Linked DNA regions of Homo sapiens. The protein of the gene in region 4 purifies or fractionates together with the protein of the main gene of each other region. This does not show direct contact. Each region holds a gene or a part of one and is shown on either strand. Other genes may lie near its edges. The genes, in order: CLPTM1, ZFTRAF1, PCNX3, SLC45A2, ACACB and GTF2E1.

Region 1 (4,831 bases), on a different chromosome or scaffold from region 4:
TGCCAGCCTGGGAGGGGTCTACATCACAGTCCCATTGTCACATGAGGACACTTGCTCAGTCTCAGCCGGAAGTGGCAGGCCAGGGACTCTCACCCACACAGCCAGGCCCCAGAGCCCAAGCTCAGCCTGGCTCCAAGCACACACACGAGAATATGGCTTTAGTAGGAACTGCAGGATTCATAGTTGCTGTCACTCCCAGTGGGCTGGGGAGCCGGGCAGTTAATCTGTGGTTAACCTGCAGTGGGCACTAAGAGACTTCCTCTCTCTGCGGGTGGTCCTGTGTTGGGGGGGTGGTCCCTGCTCATGGAGCTGAGGCCACCGTGCAAGAGTGTGTGGAGCCTGCTGTCATGAGGCTGGGCTTCGCAGCCTGGCCTAGGATGCCAGCCCTGCCTCTACCTCTACCTCGGTTTTCTACATGTGGGGTGGGAGGATCCTGTCGGTGGCCGGAAGGGTCCTGGGTGGCGGAATCTCTAAGCCTAGGGAGGAGAGCCTTCTGCCAGCAGTTGCTGTGGTGGCTGATATTCTGCTGCCAGGGTTGTCAGGGGAGATGGCTCATGCCTGTTTTCCCAGCATTTTGGGAGGCCGAAGCAGAAGGATCACTTGAGCCCGGAAGTTCAAGATCAGCCCAGGCAGCATAGTGAGACCCCATCTCTTCCAAAAAAGAGAAAAAAGAAAGAAAGAAAAGAAGCTGTCCATGGTGGCTCACGCCTCTAATCCCAGCACTTTGGGAGGCCGAGGTGGGAGGATCGTGCTTGAGCCCAGAATTCGAGACCAGCTTGGGCAGCATAGTGAGACCCCATCTCAGAAAAAAAAGAAAGCAAAGATTAAGATTTTCTCGGGAACCCTGGGGAGGAAGTGTACAGAGAGTGATAGTCCCCGAGCACTTCCACCTGCCTCTGAGGTCCTTCCCCCCATGTTGCCTCAGAGGGCTGAGGACTATGGGCCTGTGGAGGTGATCTCCCATTGGCACCCCAACATCACCATCAACATCGTGGACGACCACACGCCGTGGGTGAAGGGCAGTGTGCCCCCTCCCCTGGATCAATGTAAGCTCCCCAGCCCTGCCAGCTGCCTGCAGAGCCTTTGAGAGGGTGCTCGGGGTCCATCTCCTTGTCTTCTCCTGGCCCTGTCCCCCTGAGAGAGCTTTCCAGGGCTCCACCCTCCCAAGCTCCCACCCTGTCCTATCCCCTTCCCATGTCCTCTCCCTCTCCCACACCACCACCCCTGGGGACCCCAGGACTGACTTCTACACGCCAGCATCGGTCCGCAATCAAGTGCCATCCAGCCCACAAACTGTTTTCAAAAAATGTCTTATCACTTGCCAGCTTTTGAAATTGAGGCAGTATCACTTAAAAGCCACAATTTCTGGCTTATTTTATAAAACTGGGTTACATGGTCACCCACAGGGCAGCCGTGGGCTGGAGCTGAGCCACAGCTGCCCCCTTCAGTGGGGACCTGCCTGCCCTTTGCCTCAGTCCCCTCTGCTGAGGTCAAGGCACCCTTTAGCTCCTCATGGTGTGGCCTAGAAATGTCCCCTGTCCTCCAGTCTCTGTAGAGGGGCCCTGTTGGGTCTCTCCAGACATCTGAGGCCTGCGGGTACCCTGGCCTCCTGCCCGGGCCAAATGGTGCCCCTGCCCCACGTGCTGCAGATGTGAAGTTCGACGCCGTGAGCGGTGACTACTATCCCATCATCTACTTCAATGACTACTGGAACCTGCAGAAGGACTACTACCCCATCAACGAGAGCCTGGCCAGCCTGCCGCTCCGCGTCTCCTTCTGCCCACTCTCGCTTTGGCGCTGGCAGCTCTATGCTGCCCAGAGCACCAAGTCGCCCTGGAACTTCCTGGGTGATGAGTTGTACGAGCAGTCAGATGAGGAGCAGGACTCGGTGAAGGTGAGTGCGGCCGGTGTGGGCGGGACTTCCCGGTGCCTTCCTGGGCGCAAGAGGCCAAGAGGAAGTGTGCCAGGCCTGGGCTGTGGGACCTCCCGCCTGGTGCTCCTCTGCCCACAGTTTCACAACCTCCCAGGTCCCTTCTCCACAGTGAAAGGAAGTGGGCACCCAGCCCTCCAGCCCTAGATGACTGGGGGTCCTCTCCCCAGGCTGTTCTGTTGGACCCTTTGGGTCCAGACCTGTCCCTTCCTCCTTCTGTCCCAGACCTTGTGTCCCTGGCCCTGGCTCCAACTCTGTGTCTCTGCCATCTCACTGGGTCCTGAAATGTCAGCCTGTGTCTGTGGCGTGAGGCTCGGCTTTGCCTCCTGGGCTGTCGTCACTGTTGGGTCTCTGCTCCTGGCTCCCAGTGTCCCTTCACCCACTCCCCGCAGCACTCCCTTGGCCTCTGCCTCTTCCCCTAGTGCCATCTCCCCGTCTCTTCTGTCTTTGTGAGTCACCCTCCTCTCTCTCCCCATCTGCCCATCTCTGACCCAGTCTCCTCCTGGCTGGCCCACCTTCAGCCTCCCTCTACAGGCGGCCCCAGGGGCAGCCCTCGGGACAAAAGCTAGTGAAGGTGCTCCTGGGTGGGGACAGGCTGTGCTCACATGTGTCCCCTGCAGGTGGCCCTGCTGGAGACCAACCCCTACCTGCTGGCGCTCACCATCATCGTGTCTATCGTTCACAGTGTCTTCGAGTTCCTGGCCTTCAAGAATGGTAGGAACAGGACCCCAGGGCTAGTGAGAGGCTGTGCAGGGTGGGGGACAGGACCTGCCCCCTTCCTCCTCCCCTCCCTCCCCACATGTCCTCCCCCTGCCTGGGGTCTCTCAGCCCCACTCTCCAGAGGCCTAGTGAGCTGGGGAGGGGCAGTGGCCCCAAAACTCCCAACCCAGAAATTCCCACCCACCGGGTGTGGAGCTGAGGGAGGGGCTGGCCCGCTGGTGGGGCAGAGGCCAGGCCAATACTGCCAGGAAGCAGGGCTGGGGAACTCCAGAGCCAAGAGCAGGGAAGCCCCGGAGCTGCTCCCGCCACCCTGCCCGGCAGGCTGCCTGCTGCGGGAGGCCGCTTAGGGCTGAGTGGACGGGGCCTGCCCAAGTGGGAAGGAGGAGCACTGTCCCCCAAAGGTCCCTAGGTTCTAAGGCTGACCATACTGATGGCCAGCGTTTGAGGAGAAGCAGCCACATGCCAGGCACTGTCCTGGGTACCCTCCCCAGTAGCTCCTTGAGCCCTGTGGGAGCCAGAGGCTCAGGGATGTCACTTGCCCAGTCACACGGTTCCTAAGGGGCAGATGGTTCCAGCCCCAACTCTCATCTTCTAGGCCCTGCAGGCCACTTCTTCCTTGCCCAGAGCACCCCAGTCTGAAGGAGTGGCCTGCGGCCCTGTAGCTCCCGCAGGCGGCAAGAGGAATGAGTAGTAGTATTCCTGGTATTAAGATGCTATTGCCGGCCTGGTGGTGGCTCTCGCCTGTAATCCCAGCACTTTGGGAGGCCAAGGTGGGAGGATCACCTAAGCCCCGGAGTTTGAGACCAGCCTGGGCAACAAAGCGAGATTCGTTTCTACACAATTTTTTTTAAGAATTAGCTGGGCATGGCAGCGTGTGCCTATGGTCTCAGCTACTCGGGAGGCTTGGGCCTGAAAGGTCAAGGCTGCCGTGAGCCATGATCACACCACTGAACTCCATCCTAGGCAACAGAGTGACACCCTGTTCCAAAAAAAAGGACGCTCTTGCCATTATTGAGAACTACCATCTGGAAGAATGCAGTGTCATACGGGCACAGGAGCTGGTGCCGACCCCAGCCAGCCATCTACCAGCTGTCGCTGGGAGACGGGACCCTTCTGCCTAGGAGCTGGCTTGGCTGGGGTCCAGTGAGAAATGAGGCACAAGAAGGCTGTCCTCCCCAGTGTCATGCAGCAGGGGGCGCAGGCCTCACTTGGCACCAGTGCTGTGTGGCCTCCCTGGTCTAAGGAGAGGCTTGGGCCCAACTGCTCCCACGAGAACCCACCAGAACCCTGTCTCCAGACCCATTCTTCTCAGTTGGGACAGGGGTCATTCTGATGGGCAGGGGTGGGTGGGGTGAGGCTATGGAGTGTGCCAGAGCTCTGGGATGTGGGGGAGCTCTGGGATGTGGGGGAGCTCTGGGATGGGGTAGGGTGCACATGGACCAGAATTCACAGCCCTCACTCCCTGAGTGCAGAGCTGGCCCTGACTCTGCAGGACTGCAGACCTGGCTCCACCACTGTGCTACAGACGTGGTGGCTCAGCCTCCTGTGGCTGCGGTTAGATGCTCAGCCGGGCGGGGTCAAGAGAGGGGTGTCCGTGGTGAGACCAGGGCTCAGAGAGGAGCATGCTGACATGGATCCTTGGCAGCATCTAGGCGGAGCACTGGAAGGAGCTCCAGACTGGAGCCCAGGGCCCTTTTCAGTTTCCTGAGCATGGCTGTGAGCCAGTTCCTTCCCGGTGTCAGGGCAGGGGCCTGGAGGAGGTGGTCTTGAAGTGCATGCCACAGATCTTCCTTCCCAGGGAGGGCGAGCTGGCACCATGGTGTGGCACAGACCCCGCGTCCCTTCAGATTCTGCCATGCCAGGCTGTTTGGCCTCAGGGAAGCAGCTTCCCTGACCAGTCCTTAGCACCTGGCACGTGGTGAGCCCTGTCCATGGCACCAGTCACCGTCACCATCAGTCAAGGGACTGCACCTTGGGGTGCTGGGTGCTGACGTCCTATGGGAGGGCTCCAGGGGTGCCGCCTGTCTGGTGCTCTGGGGGTCACCCAATGAATATGAGAGCCTTCCTGGGAGAGAGGGGTCTCGTTCAGCACCCCTCCTGAGGACCCAGCCCCACCCCAGGGTGTGAGGATGCAGGCCAAGGGGGCCTGAGGGAGCTGCAGTAGGGTCTCAGCACCTCCTC
Region 2 (5,121 bases), on a different chromosome or scaffold from region 4:
GTGGCCCCCCAACCTGCAGAGACGTCTGCCTCCAGGCCCCTGGCGTCCCAGCCTGGCTGTCCCCATGAAGAACAAGCCTCCCACCTTCCCCACCCCAGAGACATGCTGGGGCCTGTCCCTCCGTTGAGTCAGTCTCTCACACACACAACCAAACAGGTGACAGGGCAAGCCCGCCCCACCCGTGCGCCCCACACCATCACCTTGGACCCAGAAACACTACGCTAGAGGGCGTCGGGCTTCCAAAGAGATGTAGAGCCATAGCCCAACCCTCTGCGCCTGTGGGTGGAGCATGAGGGAGGACAGCCCCAAAGCGCAGCCCTGAGGTGCCCAAGTTCACCCTGGTGGTGCCAGAGTCAGAGGCAGCTGCTCCCAAGGATGTGCTGGGGGCTGGGTGGGGTCTTTCTTTGTGGTCAGCAGAAAACCAAACATGGGGCCTTCCCATGCCCTTGGTGGCCAGGCCACATCAGCTCTGCAGGAGATAAGGCTCCGGCAGCGAGGCACTCCCAGCAGGCCACACGCCCTGGCCTGGGAGTAGAAACCCACAGCATTCTCAGAAACAGCTCCAGAAAGTTTCAGCCCGTGAGGGGCAGTGCGGCGGCCCGGGAGGGAAGAGCTGACTGGGAGGGTCATGCTGGGCTGTGCCATGGTCAGCCGCCCGGATGATGGCGCTTACATTCTGCCCCCAGTTCCTCTCCATTTCTCAGCCCTCGACCCGTGACCAGCAAAGCACAGGACAATGTGGGCCAGGCCCCAGCAGCCAGTGGGGGCGGGTTGGGCTGCTGTGAGGCAAGTTAATGCACCTGACTGGAGCAGAGGAAACCAGTTCTTTGGTATTGAAGCAACAAAAAGCTATCACGGAAGAGCCACATCTCCTAAGCAAAGGTGGGGGCGTCAAGCTGTATCCTTCCCAGTAGCCCTGGGAGTCCCAGGGGAAGAAAGGACCAGGGATTACCCCTCCAGGCAGGGTTCCTTCCCATCCTGTTAGGCCAGCCCTGCTCAGCCACCACGGGGCACATCAGGGGGCGGCCAGGGTGAGGATGGGAAGGGCCCACCTCCTCCAGGTGAGAAGCTGGGCTGCCCAACCTCTGACCTCTGCAGCGAGCCCTGAATGCAGGGCCAGCAGCAGGACCCCGAGAGCAGCATGGGGGACACACCTCAGACTCTCACCCAGCCAGGCGCCCAAGCACTGACCCAAGCTTTCCACACAGCCTGGGGACGCTGGGCCCTCAAGGCTGAATCTACAGTAAATAGACTCTTTCTCACTAAAATTGTGTAACTTATCCAAGAGCCTGCAAGGAGTTTAATCTTTTTCCTGGGAAGAGACAATTTCACCCTGCTTTCGGAAAATGCCTGCTGAGCCCTGGTGGCTGAGTCCTGTCTCCCTGGGAGCGGCCGGTTGGCCAGGGCAGCCCCGACCCTACCTGGATCTTCCTGCCCAAGCCTCAGTCTCAAGACCCCATGACAGAGTGTAGGGGGAGGCAGTGTCTCTGAGTCTTTCCTCGGGGGACGTGTGCGGGCACACAGATGGGGGCGGGGCAGGCTCTGACCCCCAGGCCAAACCAAAGCCCCCACGCTGTCCATTCACAGCCATGCCTTCCCCTCGAACAAAACAGAAAGTACGAAACAAGGCTGCCTTTTAATTGCTATCAGATATTCGGATATCCCGTCTGATGTCAGCAAGGCCCCCGCGCCCCGCCGGAACCCGCAGGGATGGAGCAGCACCGCCGCCTGACTGCACAGAAGGGCTGGGGCAGGGTCGCTGTGCCTCTCGGCCTCCTTGCTGCCACCGTCTCTGAGCCTCGGGGCGCCTGGTGCACCGTCTCCTCTTCGGGTCAGCCCAGCCTCTGGCGGCCCTCGGAAGGAGGGGAGGCAGGGGTCGGGGGGGTGAGCCGGAGGCGGGGGCCCCGTCGCGCACGCATGCAGACTTGCCCTGTGTTGGCTTCGTTTGTTCTCCTCCTTTGCTAAAGTGATCAGATAGTCCTGTGAAGCAGCTGCCAGCCAGGTGGACAGGGCAGCGGTGCTGGGATGCCGCCCGTGGGCTCCTCGGACATCCTGAGGCCCCGCCCTACTTCTGTATCTGGAACAGGAAGAGCCGCAGGTTGATGTTCTTGGCAGCCAGCAGCTTGTTGCACTCCACGGAGTCAATGATGGGCAGTGGCACGTAGTCCGTCTCGTTGCTCTCGTTGGTGAAGACAAAGTGGTAGATGACGGGGCTGATCCTCACGTCGTCGTAGGGGCCCTTGAGCAGCAGGAAGGAGCACTCCAGCGGTGCCGTGACCTTGCTCTTGAGGAGGAGCTGGAAGGAGAGCGTACGCTTGCAGGACAGGTTGGGGTTACGCTCCGAGTCGTTGACTCGAGCCTTCAGGACCCACGTCTGGTTCAGCACTGTGAACCTGGGCGTCTCATAGTACAGGCGCGTGATGAAGTCGTCTGTGCGGTACGGCCGGAACTGGACCTCTGTGGAGACAGACAGGGCCGGAAAGAGCCGGCTGTTAGTGTGGGCAGGGCTGGGCAGCAACGCCTTCCCTGACCAGGCCGAGGGCAGGCTCAGCCGGGGAGGAAGGCAACTTACCCGGACACCGGGCTCTGCTTGTCACAAGCAAGCCAAACGCAACTATGGCAAATGGAGGTGCACACAAGCTTTGAGGGGAACAACCACAAACAGAATCAACATGGATTAGCTGGAGAGTCCAGAGGCTGCACGTGTCAGGCCACACCCCAGGCGTGCCCGACCCACGCTGGCCTCCCTCACCGCCCCGAGCCCCGGGTGTCCCCCAGGGCGGGGTAAGCAGACACACAGACAGGATGCGGTTCCGAGAACAAGTGCACTTTATTGGTTCTGATACAGAGGAGCTGCCAGAAAAGCCAGCAGGCGGCTGCGGCACCCAGCCCTGCCCGAGGGGAGCACCAGGTCTGCAGGCACCGGGCCTGATCCGGAGCTGCCAATCAGCAGGCAGCCCTGCCTGCACAGTCCTCTTGGGCAGCCCACAGCCTGTGGCCGGCAAGTCCCTCCGTGGAGGCGTGGGTTCCCAGGTGGCCAGTCTTTCCTGCGCGAATGGGGCTTCTCACCTGGCCACGGCCACAGCCACAGTGCCCCAGCCTGCCTAGACTCCACGAGGCCCCGGTATCTCCAGGACAGCTAAGGCTGCTACTCACCACGGGCTGTGGCTGCCGCAGAGACCCCAGGCCCTCGGCCTCTCTGGCCTGCTCGGGCCCACATCCCGCTGGGCACAGTCCAGGCAGCAGGGCGGGACTGGCTGCCCACGACCACCCTGCTTGCGCCACGCCTGGTGCTCTGAGCTGGCCGCCTGGTGTGGGCTGAGAGTAGAGGGATGGAGCTTCCTCCAGTGGCCCCAGCATCAACAGGTGCTTCTCGCTGTCCTCTGGGCCAGGCTCTGGCCTGGCTCCTGCTCCCCGACACGTTCAAAGGCGGTGGCAGCGGCCCAGAGAGCCACGAGATCCAGTGTGCCTGCGCACGCATCCAGCCTGGGCGTCTGTGGGTGTCCACTCCCGGTTCTACAGTTTGAGTCGGGCACCCTCAGCTTGTTGTGGAGCCCTCTCCCTGAATGGCTTCGTGCCAGCCTTGAGAGGCCCATGGCCGGGGCAGTGACTGCCTGCAGGTAGGACCTCACTCGGCAGGGTGCTCTTCTTGCCCCAGGGTCCGAGGGGCAGGCCCCTAGCTCCCAGGCCCCCTGAGACCTGCCCACTTTCTGGTTAGACCCTGACTGTCTTGAGGCTCTGGAGCCCCACAGTGAGATGCCACCTTGCAGGGATGGTGAAGCCAGGGTGGCGAGGACAGGTGGGCGGGGCTGCTGTGAGAGCCACACAGGTGTGCACCTGGGGTCTGCCTCGGCCCCTCCTTCCACTCAGTCTCCGGCCTGTCTTCTCGACCGAGGTGTCCACCTGTCCACCGGGAGCTTGTCCAGAGCCCGGCTGTCCGGCGCTGTCAGTGCCCAGTGCCCAGAGCCTGCTGCCCCCAGACTCCTGGCTGCCAGCCCCCCAACCCACACCTGTGTGGCATGCAGCAGGCGGCGGGGCGCCTCACCTGTGTAGCCAATCTTCTCGAAGCTGAGCAGGCTGAAGATGCTGTTGTACAGCTGCATCTCCTTGCGGTGGCTCTGGTCCATCCCATCCAGGATCTCCATCAGCTCACTGCCTGTCTTGGTCGGGTGGGCGCACGCAGCCTCGTGCACCGTCAGCTCATGGAAGGGGCCGTGCCATGGGCAGCCGATGCGTTTGTACTTGCACTGGGTTACCCTGGGGGAGGCAGGTACATCACTCACAGACTGAGCCCCGAACAGGAGGCTGCAACAAGCTGTCCTCCCATATGGCTTCCATCCAGCTAAGAACCCCTTCCTGCAGGACACACGTAACTGTGAGCCCACCCCCCAGGATGAGGTCAGAGTGGCAGCATGTGGAGAGAAAGGAGACAGGCAGAAAAAGGGAGAGAGAGGGGAAGGAAGAGTGCAAGCTTGAGCCTGTGTGCCCCGCACCATGGCGTGGTTCTCTCCTCTGTTTGGCAGTGGTGGTCCTGCACAGCCTCACTGCAGGAGACTTGGTGGCTGCCTCCACTGGATGGGTAGCCATGGGCAGTGTACCCTCACACCAAGCTCCCTGAGGTCCTGCGTTGGACACGCTGTCCTGGGCCCTTCAAGGGGCTCCCCCACAGCCACAAAGAGCACTGGAAGGCTAGGCTCATGTCCGGATAACAACTGGGTGCAAAACCCACCTGTCCCCATCCTGTGCAGGCACCCTCCCACAGGGCCGTCACTGGGCTACACAGGTGGTCCCCAAGGCCCAGACAGCAGAGACAGCCAGACCACCCTGCACAGGGCCCTGCTGCACCAGGGTGGGCTCCCAGCAGTCCTGGGCCCCGCCTGTAAGGCTAAGCCCCTGACCCTCAGTTACCTGTCCTGGCATTCCTCTTTCTGGTGCCTCTCCAGGAGGGAGCGGGGAAACTGGCGCAGGCAGAAGCCACACTCTGAAGGCAGCTCGCTCACGGCTTTCTCCACGGCCAGGTTCCGGCAGCAGAGGCTCTTACTGATCTCACAACGACAATTGGGGCACGTGGCCTGCTCCTCCTTCAGCCGGGCATCTGCTAGTAGGTGGATAAAACAGCCA
Region 3 (4,831 bases), on a different chromosome or scaffold from region 4:
CACGCTTTTGCCCAGCCGTTTGCCGTGCCACGTATCCAGCCTGTGTTTGGGTGGGGGTGTGCAGGGAGGGCTGTGGCCTGGGGCAGTGGGGGGTGGTGGGGGGCTGGGAGGTCCTGTTGCCCGCCGCCTCCTTGACTGTGGCTCAGACTCGGCCATGCTGTTCGTCCAGGCCCTGCTCTCGGGGCTCTTCTCCACGCCTCTCAACCCACTGCTAGGCAGTGCCGTCTTCATCATGTCCTACGCTCGGCCCCTCAAGTTCTGGGAGCGCGACTACAAGTGAGTCTCACAGGAGGCGGGAGCATGCCCAGCAGGGCAGGAAGGGAGAGGTTTGGAGCCCAGGCTGGAGGCCACCCACAGAGGGGCCCACAGCAGGTATGGGAGGGCTTGGTCACAGTGGGGACACATGAGGCGGCAGATCCAATGCAGGGAGAGCCTGCACCAGGCCAAGGCTTCAGGCTCACAGCTTGGGGATAGTGGGGTCTGGGGATGAGCTTAGCCTCCCAGCTTCTTGGCTGTGTGTCCTGTGTGAGTCCCTTCATGTACCTGAGCCTCAGTCTCCTCATCTGCCTGCATAACGGGGCTGTCCTGGATGGCGTTGACCTTGTGGCACAGGGAGAGCATGAGCAGGGTGCACCCTCTCTTCACCTTCTTGGCCAACCGCCTTGTTGCACTCTCTCTGAACAGCACTAAACGTGTGGATCATTCCAACACCCGCCTGGTCACACAGCTGGACAGGAACCCTGGTGTGTACCCAGCCATCCAAGGGGCTTTAGGGCAGGGCCTCCCTGGGGAGGGAGCCTCGCTAACTTGTCACTTTGTCCATTTGCCCGTCTGTTCTGGGTCTTAGGCGCTGATGACAACAACCTCAACTCCATCTTCTATGAGCACTTGACACGTTCGCTGCAGCACACACTGTGTGGGGACCTGGTGCTGGGCCGCTGGGGCAACTATGGCCCTGGTGACTGCTTCGTCCTGGCCTCTGACTACCTCAACGCCCTGGTGCACCTCATCGAGGTTGGCAATGGCCTCGTCACCTTCCAGCTGCGTGGCCTTGAGTTCCGGGGTGAGCCGCAGGACCAGGCTCGGGTGGGCAGGCACAGCTCGGGCCTGATGTGGGAGCTGTGTTCAATAGCACGTGCGAAGGAGGTCCAGTCCAGCTCTGTCCAGGCTGGCGGGTGGCCTTGGGCAAGGCACTCCTCCTCCCTGGGCCTGCGTTTCCCAGTCTGAGCAATGAGGTGGCAGGGTCTCTTGGCCAAGCCCTGTGCCTGCCCCAACTTTAGGTCCCAGTGACTCTACAGGTCACTGCAGTGAGGGCCTGGGCCTGGAGGTCTGAGTTCTCACACCCAGCCTGCTCTGTGGTCTCAGGCTTGGCCCATGGGTTGGGCGCCATGAGTGAGCCAGCTCCTTCCTCTCAGGAAGACGTGTGTGTTGGATGCCCGAGAGTGCAGAGGGGCCAGACCGTGTCCCTGCTCCCTCCCGCCCTGCCCTTGGATGCTGGGAGTTGGGAGGAGAAAGGCAGGCGCTCTTTCGTGAATCTTGGCATCCAATAAGGTTGACTCCCCTGGCGTCCAAGGGGGTGAATGGCAGCAGGCCTCTGATGCCATGTTGGTCACTCTCCCAGGACAGGGCAGGTAGGGATTGTTCTAGCAGCCCCTGACTGCACACCCCTCCTCCACAGGCACTTACTGCCAGCAGCGCGAGGTGGAGGCTATCACCGAGGGTGTGGAGGAGGACGAGGGCTGTTGCTGCTGTGAACCTGGCCACCTGCCACGGGTCCTGTCCTTCAATGCTGCCTTTGGGCAGCGCTGGCTGGCTTGGGAGGTAACAGCCAGCAAGTACGTGCTGGAGGGCTATAGCATTAGTGACAATAATGCTGCCTCCATGCTGCAGGTTTTCGACCTCCGCAAGATCCTCATCACCTACTATGTCAAGGTACGGTGGGCAGGTGTGGCCGGGCAGCAGGGCCCTTGCGGGTGAGCGCTCGCTGACCAGAGGCCCCAGTACCCCCTTTCTGGGTTGTTGGGAGCCTGTTTTGTCCAAGGGAAGCTGAGGCCTCAGAGAGTTTAAGTGTCCCCTGAGGTGCCACTGCCAGACCTCAGGTTGCAGGGGCCTCTGTGCCCATATGGCTCTGATAGGTGCCCAGGCAAGGAAGGCTTGCTTTGGGCAGTGAGTATGGGGCAGGTGGGCAGTTGCAGAGGCCAGCCTTTGAAACCACCAGCCCCTGCCCCCAGCTCACCCAGCACAGAGCAGTGGTAGAGCTAACAGTTGTCACGTTAACGATCATCATGGGAGCAGCTGCTTGAGCAGTAACATTTACCACGGGTGGGCGCTATGCTGGGCATCTCTCCTGAGCTGGGTGGAGTCCCCCACCCTTTGAGAGGGGCCCTGCTATCTCACAGATGTGGAAGTTGGCTTGCAGAGGTTCCAGAATCTGAAGAAAATGGCCAAGCCAGGCCTTGAACCCAGGCTGGCCCTGAGCCACAGAGCTTTCCTGCCTTAGCCTGGGGGCTCTGAGCCAGGCCTGAGGATCTTGAGACCTCTTGGGGGTGGGAGGGGGTTGGTGAGGCAATGTGGGGTACATAAGGAGCCCTGGAATGGGGGTTCTGATCAGCCTGGAATGTTTCTTCCCTGTGTCCCTCAGCTTACCCCTTGAGAAGTGGGGGTTATTGCAGTTCTCTGAGATGGCAGAAATGTTGAGGCTTGGCCAAGCGTGGTGGCTCATGCCTGTAATCCCAGCACTTTGGGAGGCCAAGGCAGGTGGATCACTTGAGGTCAAGAGTTTGAGACTAGCCTGGCCAATGTGGCGAAACCCCATCTCTACTAAAAATACAAAATAATTAGCCGGGTGTGATGGCGGGCACCTGTAGTCCCAGCTACTTGGGACGCTGAGACAGGAGAATCACTTGAACCTGGGAGGCAGAGGTTGCAGCCAGCCGAGATCGTGCTACTGCACTCCAGCCTGGGCAACAGAGCAAGACTGTCTCAAAAAAAAAAAAGGAATTTTGAGGCTTGTGGTGCTCAGAATAAGCGTACTGGGAGTGGGGTGGCCTGCTGATCACAGTGCAGGCTCCCACGTGCCTTCTTAGGATCTACCCTGGTGCTCCCTATGTTGGGCTCGGTGGGTGGCCTACTGGGGCCCAGGTGAGCCTGCCACCTAGGTTCTCTCTGGAGTAGTTTCACGAGGCCCTGGCTGTCCTTCTCCAAAGGAAATCCTGTCCACACCACATATCAGAGGAGCTGTCATTTGTCATTCCTTCTGCCCTCCCAGCCACTCCTAGGCAAGGATTTGTGAGACCACCCCCCTTTCATCAAGAAGGAGGCTGTGTCTAGAGAGGGACATTCCCAGTCCCAGGTCACCGAGAGGTCATGGCCTGGTCCACCTTCCGGTCCCATCTTGAGAGAGGTGCCCTTGCCCAGGTTGCCCTGCTGTGCCTGCTAGGCTAGGGCCAGCAGGTTGAGATGCACCTGGCCAGGTCTCTTGTCCCATGGGGAAGCTGACTGGCCACATCTAAGGCTGCCTCAAAGGCTGGGCAGAATTTGAGTCTGGAGGAAGTGCTTGGAGGACCTGGGGTGGCTCCGCTGAGGATGTGGACTGAGGGTGAAGCTTGGAAGGACAAGTCAGGGCTGCCAGGGGTGGGGCGGGGGGAGGCGGGTGTGCTGGGGAGCCTGGTGCATCTGGGGAAGTGTCCCAGCTGCAGGGATAGGTCCTTTCCAGCCTTCGAGGTTGGCCAGTCGAGGCGGAGCCCCTCCCGTTAGCTTTGCCCTTCCCGTGGGAGTTACTGGGCTCTCAGACCTGCTTCTGCAGCTGGGAAGGGCTACAAGAGCAGGAAAAGGCACCGTGGCTTGAGGCTGCACGGAGTCTGGGCAGTGCTTCCCGGGAAGTACCTTGGGCAGAGCCCAGCTCGCAGTGAGCGCTCACAGGCGGAGCGGCTGCTGGTATTGCCCCCCGTCTTCATTTTCTTCCTAAGATGACCGTGAGTGTTGTGTCAGAGAAAAGGATGGCACTGGTGAAGGTTAACCAAGCACCTGATATGTGCCAGGCCAGCTCCTCTCCCGGTCCCTGAAGCTTTTCTTTTTTTTATTTTTTTTTGAAACAAGGTCTCATTCTGTCACCCAGGCTGGAGTGCAGTGGTGCCATCTGGGTTCACTGCAGTGTCCACCTCCCAGGTTCAAGTAATCCTCCTACCTCAGCCTCCCAGGTAGCTGGGACTACAGGCATGCACCACCATGCCTGGCTAATTTTTGTATTTTTTGTAGAGATGGGGTTTCGCCATGTTGTCCAGGCTGGTCTTGAACTCCTGGGTTCAAGCGATCCTCCCACCTCCACCTCCCGAAGTTCTGGGATTACAGGTGTGAGCCACCCTGTCTGGCTGAAGCTTTTCTTTTCTGGGTCTTTTTAGCAGCTCTGGTGGTGCCTGGATTGTAGAGGCGAGCTATGGGCAAGAAAGTCAGTCTGGAGCGGGTCTGCCCTGGCAAAGGGCCTGCCCCATTAGCTCCATCTTAGGGTGGCACATGGAATCCCCATCACCTCACTGGCTGCCCTGCCGGCCTTAACCCGCCCGTGCATCCTGGCCATGCCAGCTACCTGTCTTCCAAAGCTCCTGTACTTTTGCCCAACAGGGCCTTTTAACAAGAGGTCCAGGAGCCCCCAGCTTTGGGTACCACATGTGCCCGTGGCTTTTTTCTGAGGCGAGGCCTGATGGCTGTCATGCTTCAGCTGCCTAAAGGGACCTGTGACCCAGGCACTCTGAGGCAGGCCCACTACTTCAGCCTGCCCTTCCGGCCCCGAGATCTGGATCCCACAATGTCATGATGGGGAAGGTCCGGGGTT
Region 4 (5,324 bases):
GTACCACGAGGAGAAATATCAGGGCGATCTGACACAGCTAATGATTTGAAGAAGGGTGTGACCTGCCACCATTTTAAATCTAGTTATTTCACTCCTGAGCTGTGTGTGTGGAAAACTTGTAGTAAAAAATAGAATGTCTATATTTATAAAAAGTTTATGAAAAGATATCAATTTATTTACATTTTGACAAACTCTATGTAATAAGGCTTTATTACCTCACGGCCATGTGTGTGATCATGTGTAATAGCATGTGTGTATGAGAGAGAGAAGCCATATGTAATTATGTGTAATAACGTCTGTGAGAGAGAAGCCATGTGTGTGATCATGTAAAATAACGTGTGTGAGAGAAGCCATGTGTGTGATCGTGTAAAATAACGTGTGTGAGAAGCCGTGTGTGATGTGTAATAACACGTGTGTGAGAGAGAAGCTATGTGTGCAATCATGTGTAATAGCATGTGTGTGTGAGAGAAGCCATGAGTCCGATCATGTGTAATAACGAGAAAAGCCCCATGTGTGATCATGTGTAATAGTGTGTGTGAGAGAAAAGCCATGTGTGTGGTCATGTGTAATAATGTGTATGAGAGAGAAGCCGTGTGTGATCGTTGTGTAATAACGTGTGTGAGAGAGAAACCATGTGTGATCATGTGCAATAGCATGTGTGTGTGAGAGAAGCCATGTGTGATCATGTGCAATAGTGTGTGAGAGAGAAGCTGTCATGTGTAATAATGTGTGAGAGAAGCCATGTATGATCATGTGTAATAACGTGAGAGAAGCCATGTGTGACCATGTGTAATAACGTGTGTGAGAGAAGCCATGTGTGTGGTCATGTGTAATAAAATGCATGAGAAGCCATGTGTGATCATGTGTAATAGCATGTGAGAGAGAAGCCATGTATGATCATGTGTAATAACGCATGTGAGAGAAGCCATGTGTGACCATGTGTAATGTGTGTGAGAGAAGCCATGTGTGATCATGTGTAATAGCATGTGTGTGAGAAGCCATGTGTATGATCATGTGTAATAACATGCATGAGAGAAGCCGTGTGTGATCATGTGTAATAGCATGTATGTGAGAAACCATGTGTGATCATGTGTAATGTGTGTGAGAGAAGCCATGTGTGTGATCATGTGTAATAGCATGTGTGTGAGAAGCCGTGTGTGATCATGTGTAATAGCATGTGTGTGTGAGAAGCCAGGTGTGATCACGTTTAATAGCGTGTGTGTGAGAGAAGCCATGTGTGTGATCATGTGTAATAATGTGTGTGTGAGAGAAGCCACGTGTGTGATCATGTGTAATAGCATGTGTGTGTGAGAGAGAAACCATGTGTGTGATCATGTGTAATACTGTCTGAGAGAGCCCATGTGTGTGATCACGTGTAATAACGTGTGTGTGAGAGGGAGAGAAGCCATGTGTGTGATCACGTGTAATTGTGTGTGTGTGTGAGAGAGAGAGAAAGAGAGAGGGAACAGTACAAAGGAGGATCCCTTTAGAAAAGTATTCCAACGTCTTATGGAGCCAGAGGGCTGATTCACAGCTGCTAATCTCTGTCATGCTTTCCAGCACCACCCCCTCCCTCTCATCATAACTTGTGATCTTAGAGGCAGGAAAGAATTTGAGCCCCTCCCCCAGCCTGACCATCTCTGTTGGTTGCTCGGCCAGGCTCCACGTCAAATCCAGTTTGAAACACAGACCCTAGGACCACGCAGGAGGTGGTGGGCTCGCAGGAAGGTTCCTCTCCCAGTGGCCATGGGTAGCAACAGTGGGCAGGCTGGCCGCCACATCTATAAATCCCTAGCTGATGATGGCCCCTTTGACTCTGTGGAGCCGCCTAAAAGACCCACCAGCAGACTCATCATGCACAGCATGGCCATGTTCGGAAGAGAGTTCTGCTACGCGGTGGAGGCAGCGTATGTGACCCCAGTCCTGCTCAGCGTAGGTCTGCCCAGCAGCCTGTACAGCATTGTGTGGTTCCTCAGCCCCATCCTGGGATTCCTGCTGCAGCCCGTGGTCGGATCGGCCAGCGACCACTGCCGGTCCAGGTGGGGCCGCCGGAGACCCTACATCCTCACCCTGGGAGTCATGATGCTCGTGGGCATGGCTCTGTACCTCAATGGGGCTACTGTTGTAGCAGGTAAGTGGGCTGCACAAGGTGGGCAGACAGGGATATGTGTCTTAGTGTGTACCTCTGCAGGAGGAGGATGTTCATGTGTTTGACCTTTCCTAGAAATTTGTTAGAATTGATCTCTCCTAGGTTACAATGAACTTCCCCTTTGACAAATTTGGCCCAGATTCTGTGGTTGGGGAGCCTCTACTTCTAGAAATATCAAAATAAATATGTTTCATTGTTGTGAAGATTTAAAAATAGGATTAAATTTGTATCTATTTTATTAAATTTGTATCTATTTTATCGAATTGAATATTTTTACATATTTATCAATTGAGTTACTTTTTGAGCCCATTATGCTCTATTTAATACTCTTATCAAATTGACTGGCTGCCAAATAGCTCCATAAATATTTACAATAAGTCACCTGTGTATCCAAATAAGTTAATTCTGTTCATAGTTTTATGTAGAGCGTTTTAATAGGCGTAGGGCATAAGCCCATCAGCTCAAGAGGACCTTTCTGGCATTGCAAATTCTGGACAAAAGCAAACCTGAGGGTAGGCATTTTTTCTAGCCATTAATCAGCTACCAATTAATCAGTAATTGATGGTAGTACAATAAAGTTGCATTGCAAAAAGGATCGCTAAAAATAGCACACATTTGTAGATCATTAACTCTCAAGCTAGCAGAATCGGTGATTATGAGGCAGGATAATCAATTATCATTTGTACATATTTGAAAGAAAGCGTAAATGTACAAATGTAGGATATTTCCAGGAGAATGAACAAAAAGCTGATAAGCATTGTTGACTCTAAGGAGGATTACTGAAGGACAGGAGGTGAGAAGTGGCGGGTAGACTTATTGTTCATTTAATTTTATACTGCAATTTTTAAAACGTGTATATAATCTATGCTATTCTTAAGTTTAAAAAGCAAATGGAAACAAGAGAAACAACAATGTATCTTTTATAGGAGATTGGGTAAACGATTACAGCGTATCCGTAGAATGAAAATCCAGCTGTTAAAAATTGTGAGGAGCTGAAATTATATGAAGAAAGTTGGTTACTGCATCAGTGCTGTTCAAAGATGTGGCCTCTGACCTGCCCCTCAGCATCAGCAGAGACCGTTAGAGATGCAGTTTCTCGGGCCCCCTTCAGGCCCACCAATTGAATCAGAGTCTTGGGAAATGGGGCCAGCAATCTGTGTTTTAACAAGACATACAAGCGATAGTTCAATATGCCAGACTTTGAGAAGCACTGCGTTTGACTACCATTGTACACGTGTGTCTGTATGTGCAGAAGTGCGTAAAAGGAGGCCTTAAAGCCTGACCTTTGCTGGGGCTGGGATTGGAAGCATCTCCCTCAGCTTTTTTAATAGAATTGGAATTGCTTGCGATAAGCATGCATACTTTTTTATTTAAGGAGATATTTTACATACCAGAAATTTCACTAATTAAAAGTGTACAATTCAGTGCCTTTAGTATGTTGTGCAACCATTACCACTCTCTAATTCTACAACATTTTCATCACCCCCAAAATAAACCCATTACCATCAATAGTCACGTCCACTTTTCCCCTATGCACCAGCCCTAAGCAACCACTAATTTACTTTGTGTCTCCATAGATTTGTGTTTTCTGGACATTCGCTTGCATAATTTTTAAAACCTGAAAAAAAATGTAAAGCTATTTTTATTTGGAAAAAAGCAAAATAAAAGCAAGGAAGATGATTTTATGGCAAGAAGTTTAGGTGGAAATTACAAAACGCGGATGATTCTAAAACAGGATTTAGGAGACCAATGTTTATTTTTCTTTTAGCTTTGATTGCTAACCCAAGGAGGAAGCTGGTTTGGGCCATAAGTGTCACCATGATAGGTGTCGTTCTCTTTGATTTTGCTGCCGACTTCATTGATGGGCCCATCAAAGCCTACTTATTTGATGTCTGCTCCCATCAGGACAAGGAGAAGGGCCTCCACTACCATGCCCTCTTCACAGGTAGGGAATATTCCAGAAAGTCTCTCCTTCAGCTCCCCAGACAATGAGGCACTTCCACTAAAGCCATCCAGTGTCTCTACACGTGGAGTTTTTTGAATGAACGGGTCAGCTGATGGGCTGCTCCCGTCATGCGGGCACTGTCTCCCCGTGCATTTCTCTGAACAGTCAGCTTGTGACTAGTGCTGCAGTTTCTGCAAAGGAAGTTTACAGAAGAGCTTTCTTAAGAATGCTTTGTGGAGACAATTACAACTGAAATGGAAAGAAGCCTTGTGGATTGTACTTTTGCATTAGAGCAGAGGATCTCAAGCATCAGCAATGTAGCATCCACATTCCTTAGAAGGTCATTGAAAATACAGTTGCCTGGGCTCCTTCTCCAGTTATTCTGATTCAGTGAGTCTAAGGCGGGGCCCAGACATTTGTATTTTATTTAATAAAGACCCCAGATGATTTTGTGGCAGGTTTAAAAAACAAAAAGAGAAAACAAACCAAGCAAACAAAAAACTCAACGTCTTAGAAATTTCTTAGTTATGTAAAAGGTTGGCATTTCCTCAACCTTGTGGTTTGAAAAAGTTCATGCCAGGAGGAAAATGGGAGCTCTCTTGATCTCTTGGGACTGTTGCCAGCCTACTTTGGTTACTGTTGGTCAATTGTTTAGAGCAATGCTACTCAGAGCACCAGTTAGGACTATGCTAGAACTAGGCATTGAAATATAAGGCGACAGGAGGATCCTGGCCCAAGAGGATTTTTATATCTAAGAGGGGGACTCTATCAGCCCACCTTATTTGATTGTCTTTGTAGCCCAGCCAATGCCTTTATTTATGTTTTGATGTATTCTCTCTCCTTCCATGGCCAGGTAGGTCCATGAAAAGCAAGATTTCAAGTTTTGCTCATAGTTTCTGTCTCTAGAGCTAAGACTGCTGCCTGCCCATGGAAGCCACTGGAGCCAATATTTGTCATTTGAGCAAACATTTGAATAGTTGAAAACATGAAGGAGTGAGGCCGTTGGAGCACAGTTGGTAGATCCTCCTCTGTGTAAGGAAGGCAGAGGGGCAGGAGTGCAGCCCCGTCTGTCACTGGCCCCTGCCCACTATGTCTCCAGGTGTTTAAAGGCACCTAAGACATGGCCAGGGCTTGAGACTTCCCCTGCCTCACCTTTGCTCTTGGCTTCCCTTCCCACTGCACTTTCCACGTGTGTCTCCTCACTCGGGTGCTCCCACCCCGCTGGCGTCC
Region 5 (4,831 bases), on a different chromosome or scaffold from region 4:
CCCAGGCATAAGCCATCCTCCCATCTCAGCCTGAGTAGCTGGGACTACAAGTACGCAACACCATGCCTAGCTAATTTTTGTATTTTTGTAGATGTGGGGTTTCGCCATGTTGCCCAGGCTGTTCTCAAACTCCTGGGCTCAAGCAATCCACCTACCTCAGCCTCCCAAAATGCTGGGGTTACAGGCATGAGCTACCATGATTGGAGGACATTCACATTTCTAAATCAACCTTTTTAACATTATATATATATATATATATATATATATATATATTGCCATCGTGAATTTATTTCTCAGCATACACAAAAGATAGCAATTGAAGTATTTGGGGCTGATGGGGATTATCAGAATTTTGGTGGCAAAATGTTCCTTTAGAATTCCCAATCAGAGATAAGATATTTTACTAATTTTGTTTGAATGACAGCTTTGTTTTACTTGTCATCTTTAGATGTAATTATCTTTATTTATTTATTTGTTTATTTTTGAGACAGAGTCTTGCTCTGTTGCCCAGGCTGGGGTGCAGTGGCGCAATCTCAGCTCACTGCAACCTCTGCCTCCCAGGTTCAAGCGATTCTCATGCCTCAGCCTCTCAAGTAGCAGGAATTACAGGTGTGTGCCACCACACCTGGCTAATTTTTGTGTTTTTAGTAGAGACAGGGTTTCACCATGTTGGCCAGGCTGGTCTTGAACTCCTGGCCTCAAGTGATTTGCCTGCGTCAGCCTCCCAAAGTGCTGGGATTACAGGCGTGAGCCACTAAGTCTGGCCACAAGATGATATTTAAATATCCATTTTAAGTGTCAGTGTCTTTATAACTGTGCTATTCACAAGATTTTTTACAGTGTGTGCGTGTAATTTCTTTGGCTGGTATCAGGGTAATGCTGATCTCATAGAATGAGTTGAAGTGTTCGCTCCTATTTTCTGAGTTTTTGCAGAATTGGCATTATTTCTTTATGTTTTTGATAGAGGTTTTTACCTATAAATTCAACTTCTTTGTTATATATAGGACTATTTGTGTTATCTGTTTCCTCCTAGGTGAGCTTTGGTGGTTTGTGTGTTTCAAGGAATTTGTCTATTTCATCTTAAGTTGTCAATTTGGCATAGAGTTGCTTATAATATTCCCTTATCATATTTTACAATGTGTACTAAAAATCATTGATATAGTATCCTACAAGCACGATGGGTCTGATGGAAGGGGAAAATGTAGAGTTGCATGTTGAATGCTGTCTTGCAATTGTGAGTGCATTTCTGAGACTGTACTAGCTATTTGATCTGAGACAAAGGGGGCCATCAAGATGGGCCTGGGGTGGGGGCCAGGCCAGTGGACTCTGGGGGACCTAGGGGGCTGAGGGCAGCCTGTGTAGCAGCAGGGGTAATATCAGAGTTAAAGCTCAGACCTCTCACAAGGCAAGGCCTGTCCTGCAAATCCTGATTTGTGCCTTCTTCAAAAAAAAAAAAAAATCTCCACCCCATCACATATGACCAGCTTCCATGGCTTGACTGGCCTTTCTGCTCACCTGCAGGGGAACCTGATCTCTCCGACAAGGACCGAAAGGACCTGGAGGGCCGGCTAAAGGCTCGCGAGGACCTGCTGCTCCCCATCTACCACCAGGTGGCGGTGCAGTTCGCCGACTTCCATGACACACCCGGCCGGATGCTGGAGAAGGGCGTCATATCTGTGAGAGCCACAGCTGCCGTGTAGGGTGCAAAGAGCCCACCCTGTTTTCCAAAACATGGAGGACATTTGGGCTCGGGGGCGGGGAGGGCGGTGGTGGTTGGGATGGGTCAAATGCTGCAGGAGGTGGGAGTCACCTGGGAACTTTAAAATAATCCCGATCCCCAGGTGGCACTGCAGACCAGTGAAATCCAAACACCTGGATGGAAGCCAGGCGGTCGTATTTTTTAAAGATCCCCAAGAGATTCTAATAAGCAGCAAAGTTCAGGGACCACTAGTCTGATGGCTCGGTCAGTTTGGACCTGGACCAGGGGTAGAAACCGTTGTTCCTGTCCAGCATTCACCCACCCCTCACCATTGCAAGGACTCCCACAGTCACCTCCTACCCATGTCCAGTGCTCATTGGTTCTCTTGCTGCATTGTTCTCCCTCCCAGCTGACTCATGCCTCACACGAGCCTGTGTTTGTGTCGGTTGAGGTAGAAGTGGGTGCCAGGTTTTTATGGGGGACATTTTTTCAACTATGGCCAGTCTGGAGTCCTGGTGACGTCCTGCCTCTGAGCAGGTGCCTTCTCCTCCCTGAGCCTCAGCTTACTTGCCTGGGATGATCTGGGAATGATCTCAGAGCCTGGGCCCAGCCCCGGGCAGCCACTGTCATGGGTGTGGTCAGAGCCAGTGTCCCGTCTCCTCCTTCCCTTTCCGGGGATTCAAGCCTGGCTCGTCCACAGGACATCCTGGAGTGGAAGACCGCACGCACCTTCCTGTATTGGCGTCTGCGCCGCCTCCTCCTGGAGGACCAGGTCAAGCAGGAGATCCTGCAGGCCAGCGGGGAGCTGAGTCACGTGCATATCCAGTCCATGCTGCGTCGCTGGTTCGTGGAGACGGAGGGGGCTGTCAAGGTGGGCCTGGGGTGAGAACGAGGCCGGTGAGCACAGGGGGTGCTGGGGGCTGAGACAGCTGGCCCACAGCTGGGTCCCTCTCTGAGGCATCCTCTGCCCCCTCCCCAGGCCTACTTGTGGGACAACAACCAGGTGGTTGTGCAGTGGCTGGAACAGCACTGGCAGGCAGGGGATGGCCCGCGCTCCACCATCCGTGAGAACATCACGTACCTGAAGCACGACTCTGTCCTCAAGACCATCCGAGGGTGAGTGGCCACCGCACCTGCTTCCCAGCCTCCTGGCAAGGACCCGAGCCTGGATTGACCCCTAGCTACCCGACTCCTATGCAGCCACTTGAACCCGCCACCCTGTGCAGTCTGGGGTTGTCCCCGCCCCCTCCCCGCTCCCCAGCAAAGAGACCACACTCCCTAATGTCGGGTCTCCCAGCACAGTGGCTGGGGTGGGACAGAGAGCCTAGAGGTACTCTGAAGGCCGTGTGAGATGCTTCCAACTCATGAACCTTGCTGGAATATGGACTTGTCCAAAGTCACAGCTGGAGCAGGGTTGGTCACAGAACCCACATTTGGAACCGCTAGCCTTCAGGCTGCTGTCTTCCACGCCAGTGTTGACCTTTCCAGAGGGTCCCCTCCCCCAATTGCCATGGGGTCACCCCGTGAAGGAGGGAGTCGAGCACAGGGGACCCCATTTTGGGGATGAAGCTGAGACTCAAGGCAGTGTCTTGTCTCAGGTCATGTCACAAAGCAGTGACCAGTAGGGACGGTGGTGCCTCAAGGCATTCTGAACTTCAGGTCACAGCCCCTCCTGCTGCACAGGACCATCACCCCCATGGGGACCACAGCAGGGACTCGGGAGCTCTGGGTTCTGGGGTGTGGCCCCACACAAGGACTCTGCCACCCTTGGGGCCACTGAAAAAGTGGCTGGAGTGATCCCAGCCCTCCTCTCACCTCCCCCACAGCCTGGTTGAAGAAAACCCCGAGGTGGCCGTGGACTGTGTGATATACCTGAGCCAGCACATCAGCCCAGCTGAGCGGGCGCAGGTCGTTCACCTGCTGTCTACCATGGACAGCCCGGCCTCCACCTGACCGTGGCCCGCCCAGCCACTCCCGGGACCACGGCAAAAGGAACCACCCAGACCCACCACCCGTACACCCTCAGCAGACCCTGAAGACTTGCTTTTAAACAAAGAAAATCCTGGGCACTTCTGCAGGGCTGCTGGTTCCGAGCTGACACCCGTCTTAACAAAAGGCCCAGGAGTGCCTCTTCCAAACAAAAACAGCCTCCTCTCCATAGCTGGGAAGTTTATTTTGTTTTGTCTCTGAAGACAGCAGTTTTATTGCATCACTAAATCTAATCAAGCTAAAACATCCCTGTTTCCTTTTGCAAAACAGTGCCTGGCATGTGGGATCCAGGCGTTCTTTAGGATCCTTGGATACCACATCGTGAAATCTTTTATTTTTTTACTCTGAGACCAGCACCAGATGTAAGTAAGCATCTCATATATTTCAGCCAAATAAATGGGCCAAGGGAAAAAAATATATATATATAGACAGGACTAGAGAAAACCTATTTTTGTAATGATGTTTCTTTGGATACTGTCTAGTCACCCAGAAAAATGTATGGATGAATTTTTTTTTTTTTTTTTGAGACAAAGTCTCACTGTGTCATGCAGGCTGGAGTGCAGTGGCATGATCTCACTGCAACCTCCATCTCCTGTCTCAGCCTCCTAGATAACTGGGATTACAGGTGCCCACCACCATGCCCGGCTAATTTTTGTATTTTTGGTAGAGACAGAGTTTCACCAGGTTGGTCAGGCTGGTCTCAAACTCTTGACTTCAGGTAATCCACCCACCTTGGCCTCCCAAAGTGCTGGGATTACAGGCATGAGCCACCATCTTCAGCCAGATGATTTTTTTATTGAGAGAGTGAAATGCTATTTTGTTCCCCAAATGGCGCTAGTGAATCACTAGGAGGGTCCCACTGATAGGCCATGTTTAGCACTGGTTGCCAGGGATTCTCTTTTTGAGAGAGGGAAAGCAAAATGAATGGAAGTACCCAGCTGGAGGTTTCAGGGCTTCTGGAGGATGCTCTCGCATAGCTCGAGGTCCTCTGCCCACCTCTTCTCTCCAAGGAAAATGAGGACTGCCCCTTCCCCCTGCAGGATTGGCCCCCAGCCTGCGCATGCACCCTCCTCTTGCCCAAGTGGGGAGCACAGAGGCGGAGAGGAATCCCTTACCACACCCACGGCCCAGCTTGCTCACGAG
Region 6 (4,831 bases), on a different chromosome or scaffold from region 4:
CACTGCTCCTACTTTCTACCAGTTATTTGCTCTCCACTCTAAGTCTAGACCTATGAGGCATCTCTCTGTAAATATATCCAATCCATCTATTTTTTTTTTTTTTTTGCTATATTCTGAAGTCTTATGCTACAATTGCACATAACTGGTTTCTCTCTGCTATTTCTTTCTGCATTCATTGATGTTACTTTGTGTATCATTTCTTGTTCATCTCAATTTAACCATTAACTGTCCCTAGTCATTCTCTATCTTCTATCTGTTCTGTGTGGTCTTTTAAAGGCTATGTGGCTGCCTTCACTGTAATATGATGCTGCTTACTTTGTATAGGTTGGCTTTTCGAACTTTTCTCTTCTTCAGCATTCACTTTACTTTCTCTTTTCTCTTGGTCTGATCTGGTTTTTTATGTTTCTGTGCTTATTCTACATTCTGGCCTCTCCTCTCACACCCATTTGTCTCTCTGACTCCTTTCAATGCCTCTTCTATCCTCAGCCAACATCCCCATCTTGATGTGCTGAGCCTGCTCTATATATCTGCCACCCCAAAATGTTTCTCCCTGAGTTAGCTAAACCCACCTGGGAGAGACAGAATAGGCATATTTCTCTGATCTGGCCAACCACATCCTTATCTTTCCTTGATTCAGACTTAAATGACTCACTCACTCTGAGGTTACTGCTTCTCTTTATATATAATCCTGAACACAGAGTTTTTCTCTATTCTCTATCTTTAGCATTGACTACAAAGACTGTCTTATGAAGGTATGAGGAGTACTTTGAGAAAAACAAGAAAGCTAGAGAGAAAAGAACAGAATTAAAATAAATGTTAACACAAGAGTACTTTTAAAAAGTCTTTTGTTTTTAGTATTCTGTCATAGAAATTCAAGATGGGTTTTATTCTAGTTTGAGGCAGCAGACATTTGACCATAAGTCAAACAAATTTTAAAATTTGGAACAATTTTAATTGAAGATGACAAAAATGACAATTCATGTTTGAATCTTTTTATATTATTTAATAAATTTTAGAACTTTTAAAAGATACAACTCTTACTCAGAGATGAGAGGGGAATATTATTTCAAAACTAAATTTTTAAAAATCTTTAAGGTAAGTGTTAAGAGATGATGAAAAAGGGAAGGTTACTAGCAAGGAATTCCACTCTAGAAAGATAGGAAGATTTTTATATCTCATCAATAGGTTGACTTGCTGAAAGGATAGAATTGTCCATCAATTCTTGGGTTAGGCCTACTGACAGTTCTGCAGAGGTAGCCCCTAGTTTCTGATCTAGGGACAAGCTAGAATTTAACTGATTACAGATCAGTAATCAAACTAATAATATTGCCACTTATTTAAAAAAAGAAAAGCTATCATCTCTGAGTTCCCATACCATTCTATTGATGCCTCTTCTCTTGTACTGAGGCAGGATGGACTATTACATCCTTGGGGCAGGATGGGCCATTTCAAAACTTCATACTCCTATAGTACAGAAAGGCCAAATCAATACCACCTCCAGGATGTTATATCCAAGCAGTGGAATTTGTCAAATGCTTTGGTGGGGACATTATAACCTGGGTAACATCTTCTAACCTAATGGTTTTTTTCCTGACCACGTGGAAATGATTTTACTTTGGTCTGGCTGGCAGCTCTAGGAACCCCATTCTGTCTTTCTTGTCTGCCTCCATTTCCTCCCTTTTTTCTTAATGACCAGATTTTTGGGTATCCTTTTTTCCTGATCAGTTTATTTCCTCTATTTCCTGGTTCTTCTTCATCCCTGGAGTCACCATCATTCCTGATAAGAAGAAGATGACTTGATACAGAGAGCTGCTGTTGGGCCTCTGGTGTCACTGTACCACTAAGACTCATCCAAGGCCTGCAGTGAGTGGGGGATATGGAAATAAAGATCCTGGAAGGGGAGCTGGATTGTGGTAGGTGGAGAACATTAGAGACAGGAAGCCAGTGGTGGTGGTGACTGAATGCTATTGTAGTGGGGAAGCATCTTGATAAACAGGACAAATAACTACAGGTAGGAGAGGAAACATCAGAATAATTCAGATAGTATATTGTGTAGGAAGCAATCAGATACTACACTGACGCATACTTCAACATGAAATAATCCATAAGCTTAGAAAATTTTGTATTTTTGTAAAATCAATTTCCCTCATAAGCTTGTATGTTAGAGCTACAATATAACTTAAAAGGACTGAAAAAGATACAAAAAGAAAAATTCCTTTTTCAAAAGAGGAATTCCTTTTCTTACACAAAAAGAAATAAATAACCAGTACCAAAAGTTAAGGCTATCTGTGATACAGATGTTATTAGTTTCCTATCAACTGTGGCTCCTTTCTTTCTTTGCTTATTGGTTTTATTAAAATACCAATGGCAATTTGCTCCAAAGAACTCTGGGACCTTCCCCAGTCCTAGAAGGTAAACCTTAACTAGTCTAAGTACCAGTCATGTGATCTCATTTCCTTTGCCAGCTGCTGGTTTAGAAATATGCATATAAAACAATTGCAGCCAGTGAGACATCAGGGGATAAATAGAGTATCCTAGGGAGCCCTCTGGGAAACCTTTCTTCAGTTTTAAAATAGGACACAAGGAAGGGACGGTCCCTTTTTCTGCATTTGGACATTGTCATCTGCACGTGATACCTAGAAATACATGGCCATATTAGACTAGCTCCCCTCATGGTCCCAAGAGGATAATCAACAGGCTGAGTTCAGCAGAGTATAAAGATGGAACAAATCTAGATCCCTGAAGATATAATTGAGCTGTGAAATTAACCAGTTTTGAACTGTACTACTTCAAGACTTCTAGTCATGCAAGACAAATTTTCTTATTGTTCAATCTACTGCTAGACTGGATTCTAATTCCAACTAGAGCTGGATATTCTGTTATCACAGGCAAAGGCATCCTAACTGACACACGGTACTGGATTAGAAAATTCATAACTCTTACAGATACAAAATTTTCTGTAGAATTGGATTGCTTTGAACCATCTAAAAGGAGCCCAATTTACTCAGGACTGGCTATTCTGTAACATCAGTACCACAGGAAATAAAATACTAAGAATGCTCCTAAAAACTATACAAATACAGCCTGATTGTTGAGCTCTTTGGAAGGGAGTGGGTGAAGTGAAGGTTAAATAAAGATATCCCTTACTTGATGCTGGGAAGAGGGAGAGAAAAAAAAGGGTAGAGTAGGAGAGCACTCCCTGACCCCAATTTTCATTTATGCTTTTCAAGAAAGAATATAAACCACCTTTTCTGGCATGGCAAAACTAAGGTTACCTCTGAAATTCAAACATTAGGGAACACTGATAAAAATAGGGAGCCACTGTTAGGAGTATTAACCCATAGGTAACACCAGCTATACTTTACTTTCAAGGAAGTTGCAATTACAACTAAGAAATAAAGGTGATTAAAATGCTTCAAAAACAAAAAAGAAAATGCTGAATTCCTTAAAGGCCTTCAGCCTTCAGAAGCTGGCTAGGAAAATTCAAATATCCCCAAGCGGCACAACTAATTTAGGATTAGCTAACAATTGGCTGAGTTGCTGCAGTCCCAAGCAGAATGAGTACTTGAAGTCAAACCTAAATATTTAAAGATTTTTGCCTGAAGTCCACAGTGTTCTGCATTTAGAACAAACGAATTTCATCACAGGCACACGTTAATCAGACAAATGTGGCACAACTGAGAACCTACGTAACATTACAGTCTTGAGTCTCCTAGTAAATTACCCACTCTTGTTCTCCAAGGTACAGGTAGTTAAAACAAGAACAGGTTGAAATGTGTTCTTAGTAAGAGCACAGGGCCTACACTCACCTCTGTTTCAGGGCTGGGATTTCTGTGGGTTCTGGCTCAAGTATTTCATAGGCCAAGTTCACATCCTCTGTCTCCCGAAGCAATGCATAAATGGGCTCAATTTGTTCATTAAACCTTGCCAAAAGTGTGCGTGCATCTTTTTTGGGCATTGCTGATTCATCCTCTTCTACCTCTGTATGGCAAAAAGTACAGCGGAAAGTTCCTACAGAGAAAACAAGTATCTCAGGTCAGAGAGAAGACTTTAGCAGATAGTTTATACCTCCACCCTCCCCCAATATCTTATTATTAAAACTTTCAAATATACACAAAGGTTGAAAGAATTTCACAGTGAACAGCCATGTGACCACCATTTAGATTCTACAATTAGCATTTTGCTATTCATCACATATCTATCCATCTATCATTTTTGATGTATTCAAAGTAATTTCATCCCTAACTTCAGCATAGTTTTTAATCACAATATTTCTAATATGTATTTATTTTAACTTAAAGCCAAATTCTTTACAGCTTACCACCACAACTTGTACCCTTTCCTGGCAGCTTTAGTCTTTTTTGTTTTCACATTACACATTTGGGCCTACGTTATGGGGAAAGCCAAATAAATACCTAAAACCAAGAGTTTCTAGTCATCCTGAACATTGTCACAGGCTATTTTTTAAAATTTATTAACCATTTGTATCTAATCAATTCAATCTATTATGCTAAAACTCACACTCTTAAACATTACTTAACAGTCTACACCACTAGCCACACCTGGATTTCCAGTTTGGTTCTTATTCCCAAAGACAGGAATATGCATCCTTCCTTTCTGACTCAACTTACTTGAAAGATTAAAAGGGAACATGTAAGTACTTAGTGTCTGGCAAATAGTTAAGTACTCAAACATTTAGCTATAAAAGGCCCCATGTATGATTGATACATAAAGAACAAACAACCAAGTGATCTCTACTTCAACATAACACTAGATCCTACTGATACATTACCAGTATAATAATTTTCTTTACTGCCCCTCACACATAGCC

Evidence for each region.
Region 1: the proteins of SLC45A2 (region 4) and CLPTM1 purify together in Homo sapiens (affinity purification with mass spectrometry; one large-scale study listed by BioGRID and IntAct). This does not show direct contact.
Region 2: the proteins of SLC45A2 (region 4) and ZFTRAF1 purify together in Homo sapiens (affinity purification with mass spectrometry, with the first as the bait; one large-scale study listed by BioGRID). This does not show direct contact.
Region 3: the proteins of SLC45A2 (region 4) and PCNX3 purify together in Homo sapiens (affinity purification with mass spectrometry, with the first as the bait; one large-scale study listed by BioGRID). This does not show direct contact.
Region 5: the proteins of SLC45A2 (region 4) and ACACB purify together in Homo sapiens (affinity purification with mass spectrometry; one large-scale study listed by BioGRID and IntAct). This does not show direct contact.
Region 6: the proteins of SLC45A2 (region 4) and GTF2E1 purify together in Homo sapiens (affinity purification with mass spectrometry, with the first as the bait; one large-scale study listed by BioGRID). This does not show direct contact.

The regions. Positions count from the first base shown.
Region 1 is NC_000019.10:44,985,530-44,990,360, forward strand, and holds part of CLPTM1 (putative lipid scramblase CLPTM1), read left to right. Parts: intron 1-925; coding exon 926-1,046; intron 1,047-1,649; coding exon 1,650-1,894; intron 1,895-2,550; coding exon 2,551-2,644; intron 2,645-4,831. UniProt on the Homo sapiens protein: Involved in GABAergic but not glutamatergic transmission. Binds and traps GABAA receptors in the endoplasmic reticulum (ER).
Region 2 is NC_000008.11:144,448,314-144,453,434, forward strand, and holds the end of ZFTRAF1 (zinc finger TRAF-type-containing protein 1), read right to left. Parts: coding exon 4,909-5,121; intron 4,258-4,908; coding exon 4,046-4,257; coding exon of another isoform or gene 3,867-4,045; exon of another isoform or gene 2,812-3,866; intron 2,458-2,811; coding exon 2,066-2,457; 3' UTR 1,269-2,065; downstream 1-1,268. Other genes in the region: TMEM276-ZFTRAF1 (uncharacterized protein LOC157542 isoform 1 precursor), read right to left, coding at 2,066-2,457, 4,046-4,257, 4,909-5,121.
Region 3 is NC_000011.10:65,628,673-65,633,503, forward strand, and holds part of PCNX3 (pecanex-like protein 3), read left to right. Parts: coding exon 1-31; intron 32-146; coding exon 147-276; intron 277-684; coding exon 685-743; intron 744-847; coding exon 848-1,063; intron 1,064-1,678; coding exon 1,679-1,932; intron 1,933-4,831.
Region 4 is NC_000005.10:33,981,006-33,986,329, reverse strand, and holds the start of SLC45A2 (membrane-associated transporter protein), read left to right. Parts: upstream 1-1,636; 5' UTR 1,637-1,746; coding exon 1,747-2,131; intron 2,132-3,917; coding exon 3,918-4,094; intron 4,095-5,324. UniProt on the Homo sapiens protein: Proton-associated glucose and sucrose transporter. May be able to transport also fructose. Expressed at a late melanosome maturation stage where functions as proton/glucose exporter which increase lumenal pH by decreasing glycolysis.
Region 5 is NC_000012.12:109,262,711-109,267,541, forward strand, and holds part of ACACB (acetyl-CoA carboxylase 2), read left to right. Parts: intron 1-1,521; coding exon 1,522-1,676; intron 1,677-2,399; coding exon 2,400-2,570; intron 2,571-2,678; coding exon 2,679-2,815; intron 2,816-3,525; coding exon 3,526-3,652; 3' UTR 3,653-4,831. UniProt on the Homo sapiens protein: Mitochondrial enzyme that catalyzes the carboxylation of acetyl-CoA to malonyl-CoA and plays a central role in fatty acid metabolism.
Region 6 is NC_000003.12:120,769,908-120,774,738, reverse strand, and holds part of GTF2E1 (general transcription factor IIE subunit 1), read right to left. Parts: intron 4,012-4,831; coding exon 3,810-4,011; intron 1-3,809.